Linked DNA regions of Homo sapiens. The protein of the gene in region 1 purifies or fractionates together with the protein of each later gene. This does not show direct contact. Each region holds a gene or a part of one and is shown on either strand. Other genes may lie near its edges.

Evidence for each region.
Region 2: the proteins of ABCA9 (region 1) and PMM2 purify together in Homo sapiens (affinity purification with mass spectrometry; one large-scale study listed by BioGRID and IntAct). This does not show direct contact.
Region 3: the proteins of ABCA9 (region 1) and PMM1 purify together in Homo sapiens (affinity purification with mass spectrometry; one large-scale study listed by BioGRID and IntAct). This does not show direct contact.

What each region holds. Positions count from the first base shown.
Region 1 is NC_000017.11:69,022,794-69,026,447, reverse strand, and holds part of ABCA9 (ATP-binding cassette sub-family A member 9), read left to right. Parts: coding exon 1-71; intron 72-2,094; coding exon 2,095-2,234; intron 2,235-3,654. UniProt on the Homo sapiens protein: Transporter that may play a role in monocyte differentiation and lipid transport and homeostasis.
Region 2 is NC_000016.10:8,807,754-8,811,407, forward strand, and holds part of PMM2 (phosphomannomutase 2), read left to right. Parts: intron 1-3,325; coding exon 3,326-3,425; intron 3,426-3,654. UniProt on the Homo sapiens protein: Involved in the synthesis of the GDP-mannose and dolichol-phosphate-mannose required for a number of critical mannosyl transfer reactions.
Region 3 is NC_000022.11:41,583,212-41,586,865, forward strand, and holds part of PMM1 (phosphomannomutase 1), read right to left. Parts: intron 2,983-3,654; coding exon 2,865-2,982; intron 1,393-2,864; coding exon 1,316-1,392; intron 1,162-1,315; coding exon 1,070-1,161; intron 848-1,069; coding exon 748-847; intron 1-747. UniProt on the Homo sapiens protein: Involved in the synthesis of the GDP-mannose and dolichol-phosphate-mannose required for a number of critical mannosyl transfer reactions. In addition, may be responsible for the degradation of glucose-1,6-bisphosphate in ischemic brain.

The DNA.
Region 1 (3,654 bases):
AATGGGAAGCTGAAGTGTGCAGGCTCTTCTCTGTTCCTTAAGAAGAAATGGGGCATAGGCTACCATTTAAGGTACAGCCCTGAATGTTGGAGACGTGTTGACAGATGCTGAAAATGCTGGAGGCAGGTGGTATCAGCATCAATGTGTAAAAGTAGGCCCTATAACCACTAAGTTCATTTCAAGGGAGCTATGGTAGAACTAAGGCATAATTGCTTTTTTAGCTAGAATGCAGGATATATGAGATTATAGACATTGAGCATGCAAGGATGATTAATCTAGGCTTAAATAAAATTTTTGAAAAATATTTTCACAACGTGTTGCTTGCTAAGAGTAATTTGTTGATATTCCGACCCTTTCTCTTCTCATATTTTAGATGTTTTATTTTTGTTCATCTTGACAATTTCAATACCCTGTATTCTCCCTGACTTCATTTCTTTCCACCATCCTTTTGTGGTTTTTTTCTCTTACTGATAATAATTATTATCATTACTGAGTAATGTCTACTACTTTTTAAGTATTGGCTATGTTTTAGGTACTTACTAAGATATTTACATATAGAATATTCATATTATTGTATTCAATCCTCTAAATAACTTTAAGAAGATACTATTGTTATTCCCCTTTGACAAGTGAAAATACCACTTCAGATAGTTTTAACAATCTGCCAATCTCCACGACTTGTAAATGATAGTCTTTGTTTCAAAATTACAGGTGTGATATGAATGGCTTCCTATATTTTGCATTGCAATGTAGATATTTTTTAAAAAATGATTCAAATCACTTCATCCTGATGGATAAATGGATCCCCTCATTTTTTACTCAAAGTGGCTAATCTGATCAAATCTACCAATCTATCATTACTACTTGTTACAAATCTACCAATCTATCATTACTACTTGTTACAATCTAGTAGAATCAATACCCTCTATTGAATACTCACTATTCTCTAGCTATGTTTCATAGTTCAGTTGTCTTGTTTCTGCTTGAGAGAGGATATCTGTCAAACATGTTCTTCTTCAACCCATTTAACCATGTCCAAGTCTTAACCATTTCTGAAAGTATTTTCTCCTTAATGAGTATCCTCTTTTCTGGAACGCTGAAAGCACTATTTTGAACTGTTGCCTTAGGCAACTTAATTAACTTCTTTGATCCTCAGTAACTTCATTTATGTAATAGCAGTAATAATACCTACTTTGCAGTTAAGGCTAAGAAATATTGAGTGAATGAATACTTGACAAGCTGCAAAGTGCTCAACTGAGTTAACTCAACTTCCTTCTCCCTCACATCTTCTGTCATATGCTGCTTTATATTATTTTTATGTTGGAAGCTTCTTTAGAGAAGGTACTGCATTCTTCCTATTTGGTATTCTTGATAGCACTTGTAAGTACTATACCTTGTAAGTACAGAATAGCCTTTTTTTCAAACTGATTTTTTAGGTTTGTATCATCAGTCAATTGTGATCTTCTCACCACTCTGTCACCTCAGCACCTTTCAATGTATGTGATTAACAGTGGAGTTTCAAAAATCAAATAATTTCATGAGTAATTTTATATATTCTTAATAAAGACAGGCCAGATTTCACTTGAATAAATTTTGGGCCCCAAAATGATAAAATTAGCTTTAGCAGAATCTGCATTAGCATGACATGGGGCCACATTCTTAATGACTGTATCACATCACCTCCATTTTTTGTTTTCTCATGCTCAAGTCTGAGTTTCGGCAGAACTCATACATTACTACAAAGGGAAAGCTCAAGGTTGGGAGGTTGGGTTTTTGAGTAGATGCTGACAAATTAAACATTTCCCTTTACCTCACCCCAGGCAAGATCTGGCTTAATATCTCATTTCTCCAAATAAGAGTCCTTGAGTTACCTCTTCCCACTCTAATCATCCCTTATACTAATTCTTCTGCCATGTTGCATAGATTTAATGGTTTGGACTTTATTAGTAGTTTTACATCTTACTTTGTCCAGTAAACTACACATTTTTTTGTCTCATAAATATTAATAAAGTGACAAGCACATACTACATAATTAGGAAATTGTTTTATAGACACAGTTGGATAAAAATAACTTTTATTCTTTTTAAATGTTAGTTTGCATCTGAATGAAAGGTGTGATCCAGAGAGTATAACATCACTGGTTAAGCAGCACATCTCTGATGCCAAATTGACAGCACAAAGTGAAGAAAAACTTGTATATATTTTGCCTTTGGAAAGGACAAACAAATTTCCAGGTAACAAAATGTAAAGATGACAGAATGGTTTTGGAATGGTGTTATTAACAATAACAGTGGTGATAAGAATGATGGCTAGTTTTAATGCTTGCTAGATGAATGGCACAATGCGTTTACTCATTTAATATTCCCAACTCCAAGGTCACTTATAATATTACCCCTTAGTATTATCCATATGCTACTTATGAGTAAACCAAGGCATGTAGATGTTAAATATGCTTCAAGTCAATTAAGTGCAATTAAGAGGCGTAGGCTAGCAGCAAGATAAAATAAGAATTATTTGGAAAATTTGTTTCAGTAATGAATGAGAGAGTGTGGTCAGGGCAGGAACAGGTATATAAATACAGTGGCAGACTATCGAAGAAGAGCTGAAAGAATTGTACACAATAAATAGGTTGTTTTAGAAACACCAGCACATACTGATATAATCCAAGTTATTGAACATAACTTGGATTGGCGTGCATTCTGCCAAACACTTCAATGTACAACTTTGCTGCAAACACAGAAGCTTGGAGAACTACTGGTGTTATTACTTTTCTATGGTATCTCCCAATGCACTGTTTCACTTCCTAAGCGTTTTGAGGTAGAATGCTTCTTAAGTTTACTCTGTAAAAATGTGTTTGCCATATCAAGTTCAAGAAATTATACCGGGGCCATTGCTGCATGCTTGAATCAATAAGCATGACATAACCTTGGTCCATAAAGAAACACAGAACCAGACAATAAAGTGCAGAGATTGAAACTCAATGCTAGAGCCAGTCTAGATTCAAACACCAGCTATGCTATTATTAGCTCTATAATCCTTAACAGGTTATAGTACTATTCTGTATCTCAGTTTCCTCACTTGTGAAAAGAAAATTAAAATAGTACTCTAGGGTTGTTATGAGGATTAAATGATTTAATACCTTCAAATGTATTGAAATATTAAATATAAATAAAGCACTGGAACAATACCTGACATGCAGAACCTATGGTATTTCATCAGGTGTAAGAAGCCCTCAACTACAGGATGTACCACTAAGAAAGAAACACAAAGAAATAATGCTACCATTTAAAATATGATCTACTATCATTTAAGATCCATTATTATTTCAGATATATTAAAAGATGATGAAATATATCTCTTAGAATAAGTGAAATAATGGTTCACAGTGCATACACAATATCTTTGAGATATGTATCCTTATAAAAACAGAAATCTTTGTGAAGATCACACAGCAAAGTTTTAGCTGATTGCTTATTAAATGCATTCCAAAGTGGATGAGAAATTTGGAGAAAGACTGAAAAACAATTAACCCTTAGGTAAGTTTAAGGACTCATTAGAAATTTTGACTACATCTCTATTTTTCTTTGTCCAACACATAATTAAGATTGAAGTCTTTAATTTATCCCAATATTGAATTAGTTTATCTTTTATCCA
Region 2 (3,654 bases), on another chromosome or scaffold:
CAAAATGTTGGGATTACAGGCATTAGCCACTGCCCCTGGCTTTCATAAATGTTTGGTTTGGGGACCTACCTTCTGCCATGGGTACAATTATCTCAGTTCCATTTTTAAAATAATAGTAATAATAATAATGATGAACATAAATGCCGACAGTAAATTTAAAGACTGGCAGGAAATAGACCCAAATGTTAACAGTGGCTATTTCTTGATGGTGAGGTTGCAAGTGATTTCTTTGAAATCCTTCTCATTTTTACCCCCAGTTTTCAACACTTACTATGTAACACCTTAATCATCAGGGTTGGAATTAAGTGGCAATTCAATTTCAGGGCTGGGTGTACTTCAGAGGCTGCTTCACACTATTAGGATTCATAACCTGAGCGCCTCCTGCTCAGCATCTCCAGCCAGAGTGCAGGAATGTCCCTTAGCCGAGGGGGAGGCCTGCATGAGACAGGCTGGACATGGACTTGGTTATTGTTGCAGCTGGGTAATGAGCACATGAGGACTTATCCTATTCTGTTTACTTTTGTGTGTGTTAGAAATTTTCCATGGCGAAAAGATAAAATATACAAATATCCCAGGTCAGTTCCATTTTTACTTTGGGCTGAGCACTAAGGGAGGATTTAAAAAAAAAAAAGGCATAATCCTGTCCTCAAAGAGCGTATCATTTAGCGAGGGAGAGGGATGTGGAGAGCCATAATTCCAGAACAGTAGAAGAGACCTGGTGAATCCAGGAGGCAGAACTGAGACCCACCTTGATCCACATTTGTCCACATTTGCCTGACAACACTAACTACATGCCCCACAACGGCCAGGCAGATGCAGTAAGACTTCAGAGAGCCCAGGTCTTTAGGGCGGAACTGATTGCTTAGTAAACCACCTTCAGCCTTGTTTTGGGGAAGGCTTTCTAAACTGCATCAACTTCTCTCTGTGCCTTGGAAATGAGAAGAAGAATATGTCCTTGAGTGGGGGGGCATTAATTGAGCTCTTTTTCTGATCATTAGGACCTTTAGCCCTAGGGTCACCCGGGGCACGGTCACCCGTCCCCTAGTGCCTCAGTGCTCATACACACGTGGTAGAGGACAGGCTGGGCCTCTGCCAACTCCGGGACGGCCTGGACATGGGATTATTGAGAGAGATTTTTAGGCTCGCATATTTTGTTACATCATTTGCCTCTTTCTCTGCAAGTTGAGCAAAATAGGAGAGAGGATCCAGACGATTGAGATTTTGCTGTTTTTACTTTAATGAGTATTCATTGCTTCCCAGTTTACAAAGTACCTTTACATAACTGGCATGTTTGATTTTTAACAAGGCCCTTTGGAGGTAACCAGAGCAAGTGCCATTAGCCTTTCTGTAGGTGAATAAGAGGAGGCTTGGAGAGGTGCCCAGAGCCACACAGCCTCCTAAGAGGCCACACTGACATGGAATCAGGTCATCAGCCCTGCACGTGGCATGTGGTCTCTCGGTATTTCCAATGGCCAGTGCCAGGACATCAGGTCTGTGAGATTAAAATAGTAGAAAAAGATGAGGGAAAATGTTTCATAGGGTTCCCAGGCATCAGCGTTTAGAACTGGAAGACACTTTTCACTGCATAGTTTGTCAGAAAATGCTTAAATTTCATTGGTCAGAATGATATCTAGCTTACAAGTTATCTGAACTTTTAAGAAACTGGGTGGTTTTCTTTTTTTGGTTGTGGGGTTTTTGTTTGTTTGCTTGTTTTGTTTTTTTTGAGACAGAGTCTGTCTCCCAGACTGGAGTGCAATGGCATGCTCTCAGCTCACTGCAACCTCCGCCTCCCGGGTTCAAGCGATCCTCCTGCCTCAGCCTCTCAAGTAGCTGGGACTACAGGCATGCGCTACCATGTCCCGCTAATTTTTGTATTTTTAGTAGGGACAGGGTTTCATCTTGTTGGCCAGGCTGGTCTTGACTCCTGACCTCAAGGAATCCGCCCGCCGCAGCATCCCAAAGTGCTGGGATTACAGGTGTGAGCCAAAGAAACTGTTTTCAGACTCAAACTGGAAACCGTGGAAAAAAACTCTTTGTTTTTTGTTTTTTATTTTTTGTTTGTTCGTTTGTTTTTTGAGACGGGGTCTCCCTCTGTTACCCAGGCTGTAGTGCAGTGGTACGATCTTGGTTCACTGCAGCTTCCACTGCCCGGGCCCAAGCAATCCTCCTGTCTCAGTCTCCCAAGTAGCTGGGAATACAGGCATGTGCCACCATGCCCGGCTAATTTTTGTATTTTTTGTAGAAACGGGGTTTTGCCATATTGCCTAGGCTGCTCTCAAACTCCTGAGCTCAAGCCATTCACCCACCTTGGCCTCCCAAAGTGCTGGGGTTAATAGGTGTGAGGTACCGCGCCCAGCCAAAAGAACATCTTTAAACATCGTCATTTGAAGTGACTAAACTAATGTTAGCTTCTCATTTTCTGTGATCAAATCAAACATTTAGGAGCTGTCTGCTACTGGGTAAATTGAATTTCCTCAGTTATTACTGAGGCTCGTTGGACAATTCTCAGAGCCTTTTTCTGTGTAGCTTTGCTTGGTACTATCAGTCTGTTCAGAAGCTCCGTAGCAAAATAGATGTCTGGTACATGTATTTTCAAACTCTTCTAGGAAATGACTGCTGTTGCCAGTGCTGGAAATCATTTTCATAGCTCTTTATTAACCACAAAATTATCTGCCCAGTAGCAGCACTGTGCAACAGAAATAGAAAGTGAGCTATGTATAATTTTAAATTTTCTGTAGCCACATTTTGAAAGAATGAAAAGGAAGAGGTGAAATGAATTTTAATAATATATTTTATTTAGCCTGATATTTCTAAAATATGACTTTTTTTTTTTTTTTTTTTGAGACAGGGTCTCACTCTGTCACCCAGACTGGAGTGCAGTGGTGTGATCTCAGCTCACTATAACCCCTATCTCCCAGGCTCATGGAATCTTCCTGCCTCAACCTCCTGAGTAGCTGGGATTATAGGCATGCATAACCATGCCAGGCTATTTTTTGTATTTTTTGTAGAGACAGAGTTTCGCCATGTTGTCCAGGCTCAAAATATGAGCATTTTAACACAAAGTCAATATACAACATGATTGATGCAATTACATTCCTTTTTCATACTAAATCTTTCAAATCTAATCTCAATTCATATTAGCCACATTTCAAGTCTTAATAGTCACAGTAGTTCATGGCTACCATATTACATAGCACAGAGCTGAGAAACATTGACCACACTAGCCTCTGCTTTTTAGAATTTCCCAAGATTTTAGGCTGTTTATCTATGTTGCCCAAATGAATAACGTGTTTTTGGAGAAACTCTGTCACCCTTTCATTCCCAGGGGTACTTTCATTGAATTCCGAAATGGGATGTTAAACGTGTCCCCTATTGGAAGAAGCTGCAGCCAAGAAGAACGCATTGAGTTCTACGAACTCGATAAAGTACGTCTTTCTGAAATATCTTTGGTGAATGGCTGGGTTTATGGAAATAAGATATGGCCTGGTGTGGTGGTTCATGCCTGTAATCCCAACACTTTGGGAGGCCAAGGCAGGAGGATCACTTGAGCCCAGGAGTTCAAGACCAGCCTAGGCAACATAGTGAGACCTCATCTCTACAAATAATAAAAAAAAAAATTAGCTGGGCATGGTGGCACACACCTGTGGTCCCGGC
Region 3 (3,654 bases), on another chromosome or scaffold:
GCTCATGCCTGTAATCCCAGAACTTTGGGAGGCCGAGGCAGGCGGATCACCTTAGGTCAGGAGTTCGAGACCAGCCTGGCCAACGTGGTGAAACCCTGCCTCTACTAAAAAAGTACAAAAATTAGCTGGGTGTAGTGGTGCATGCCTGTAATTCCAGCTACTTGGGAGGCTGAGGCAGGAGAATCGCTTGAACACGGGAGGTGGGAGTTGCAGTGAGCTGAGATCATGCCACTGCACTCCAGCCTCTATCTATTTTTTTGGAGACTCTATCTCCAAAAAGAAAAAGAAAGAAAGGTTCTCAGTGGCATTGCTGGAGAGCAGGCTGGCAGGGCTATGCAAGGGGTAGGGAGGGACAGAGAGGAAAGTTGGGGCAGCCTGGGGCTGGGGAAAGGGGTAATCTAGAAAGTGGGGTCTCAGTTCTGCAGATGAACAGATTTGACACTGACTCGAGAGGCTGATGAAATAAGAGTTGTTGGACCCGATGTGGGTGGGAAGGTGGAAATGATGTTCCCAGGTGTTGGCCTGGCTCAGTGGGTGGCTGCCTGGTGCTGGTCACCTAGGAAGGGGGACCAGCAGCATTGTAAAGATGCAGGTGTGTCTACAACAATGGCACACAGTAGGTGCCTGAAAGGGTATCAGTTAAATCAGAACACATCCCCCAGTCTATTTTACTGATGAGAAAATAAAGGCTCAGATAAATTGAGTGACTGAGGCCCTACAGGCCTAAGATTGCATAGCTAGTGGTACCTTGTCCAGTTCGGAGAACTCGATCCTCTCCTCCAGGGTGCAGCTCCGGCCGATGGGCGAGATGTTCAGCATGCCATTCCGGAACTCGATGAAGGTTCCACTGGTGGTGAGGGAGGGCGGGGAGCCAGAGAGAACCAGAACGGCCCTGAATTCAAATCTAGCCCCACCTGGGACCCCAGCCTCCTAGGACTTCAAAGGGGACAAGAATCCACACTCCCCGCAAAAAATCAGGGGCCCAAGTATCTCCAGGTTCCCTCTGAGGGACCCACACTTCTCCTCCCTCAGGCCCCAGGTTCTGGAGACCAGGCTGGTGGGACCTCACCGCTTCTTGGGCAGCCTGAGCAGGGCCATGTAGCTGAGGCAGAAGTTGATCAAGTCCTGCAGCAGCTCCTCCCCCAGGTGGTTCTGGATGGTCTGGCCAAGGAACACAGGGCTCTGAGCGTGGCCTGGGCTGCCTGACCCTGAGACAGGCACAGTGTCTCTCCCCCAGCCCAGGACAGAAGCCCCCTTGGACTGCTCCACTATGGAAAAGTGGGGTGCCCCTGGCTAAGCCCTGGGGGACACTGACCTGCTTGGAGAGCAGTCGTCCGTGCTTATACTGCACCGTCCCGTTCTCGGCAAACACATAATCAAACTTCTCAATGACTTCAGGGTCACATAGAGGACAGGAGGAAGAAAGAGTGTGAGACCACGTCTGTGACCCCACGGGCAAGTAAAGAGAGAGGAAGCCTACACCCTTGGTTTCACATTCAAAGGCCATTTGTTCAATCTGAGGCTACAACCTGCTTCTCCAGCCTTTCTCCCTCTGCAGCTTGGTTTTCTTCCAAAGAAGCCAGTCACACCTGTGGGCCTCTGCACACAGGCATCCATGCAGGTCCTTCTGTCAGAACCGCCCTTCCCTGGCTTCCCTGCCACTCATCCTCCAAGATTCAGCTTCCTCCTCTGGAAGCCATGCAGTACTCTCTGGCAGAGGGCATCATTTCCACTCTGTGCTCCCCTGCCCCTCTGCAGAGGGGCTCCCTTCTGTTCTATAGCTGCCATCGCACTGGGTTCTCAAGGCTGGCTGCATGGGAGAGTTGGAGGTTTCAGCTCTGACTGCCAGGCGAAGCAGTTGGAGTGGGTGGGAGGTGGGAGGCACAGGGAGCACAGCCCAGAGGCTGTTGCGGGGTCTGGGTGGCACGTGGTTACCTGGACTATGATGGCGTGGTGGAGATGGAGACAGAGGGGACAGGGAGATATTTTGGGGTTTGCTGATGGAATAAACAAGAGGTGGGGAAAAGGAAAAATTCGAGGAAGTTTCTGGCTTGAGGAACTGGAGGCACCCACTTTGACTGGGCTGAGACCAGGGGCTCTGAGGTCCAGTCGATTTCCTGGATAACTTCAGAGTCATCCTCTGTTAAATGGGATGATCACGCCTACTCTAAAGTGTGATTGTGGGGATCAAATGCAATGACATTAACACATGATCATTTTTGACAAATGGTAGCCATCATTGGTTCTGCCCTTTTATTTATTTATTTATTTATTTATTTATTTATTTATTTATTTTTGGATGTGTAGCCTCACTCTGTCACCCAGGCTGGAGTGCAGTGGCCTGATCTTGGCTCACTGCAACCTCCGCCTCCCAGGTTCAAGCGATTCTCCTGCCTCAGCCTCCCGAGTAGCTGGGATTACAGGCACGTGCCAACACACCCAGCTAATTTTTTGTATTTTTAGTAGAGACGGGGTTTCACCATGTTGGCCAGGCTGGTCTTGAACTCCTCATCTCAAGTGATCCATCCGCCTCGGCCTCCCAAAGTGCTGGGATTACAGGCGTAAGCCACTGTGCCGGCTGGTTCAGCCCATTTTAAAGATGAGGAAATCAAGACTCAGCAGGGAGAAATGAGAATGTAAACTGCATAAGGGCAGGTTCTGCTTGCTTTGCCCCAGCCATTTCTCAAGGGCCTGGCACAATCCCTGGCAATAGGAAGTGCTCAAGTGTTTGTCAAATCAGTAAGGGAACTATCTGGCTGCTCTCTCTCTATTTCTTCTGCCCCACAGAAGCAGGACTGGATCTTTGAAGACGCCCAGGAATCTCTCAAACTCCCCACTCCCTCTACCCCCAGCCTCACTCCTACCTTCATCCCCGTCACCCAGCTGCTCAGCGATCTTACAGTAGTCAGAGCCGCCCACCACACCGATCTGCACTCTACTTCGTAGCTTCTGCAGGAAGGCGGCCACCTCAGGGTCAATTTTCTATGGGGGGAGAGGGGAAGCATAGCATTCTGGCTTTCAACATGTCTGGGACCTCCACTTAGCCCTCACTTAGTGCTGAGAACCCAGGAAGCCCACATTCTACCTGGATCTGAAGCAGTACAAAGCTTAGACACCAAAAATTAGACAGGTTGGACACTGTGGCTCAGGTCTGCAATCCCAACACTTTGCGAGGCCAAGGCAGAAAGATCACTTGACCCAGGAGTTTGAGACTAGAGCCTAGGCAGCAAAGGAAGACATTGTCTCTATGAAAAAAAAAATTTTTTTGGAGACGAATTTTTGTTCTGTCATCCAGGCTGGAGTGCAGTGGTGTGATTCTGGCTCACTGAAACCTCTGCCCAGGCTGGAGTGCGATGGCGTGATCTCAGCTCACTGCAACCTCTGCCTCCCGGGTTCAAGCGATTCTTCTGCCTCAGCCTCCCGAGTAGCTGGGATTACAGGCGCCTGCCACCATGCCCAGCTAAGTTTTAAATTTTTAGTAGAGACAGGGTTTCGCCATGTTGGCCAGGCTGGTCTTGAACTCCTGACTTCAGGTGATCCATCCGCCTGGGCCTCCCAAAGTGCTGGGATTATAGGCGTGAGCCACCGTGCCTGGCCGAAAGTTTTTAAAAATTAGCCAGGCATGGGCTGGCACGGTGGTTCACACCAGTAATC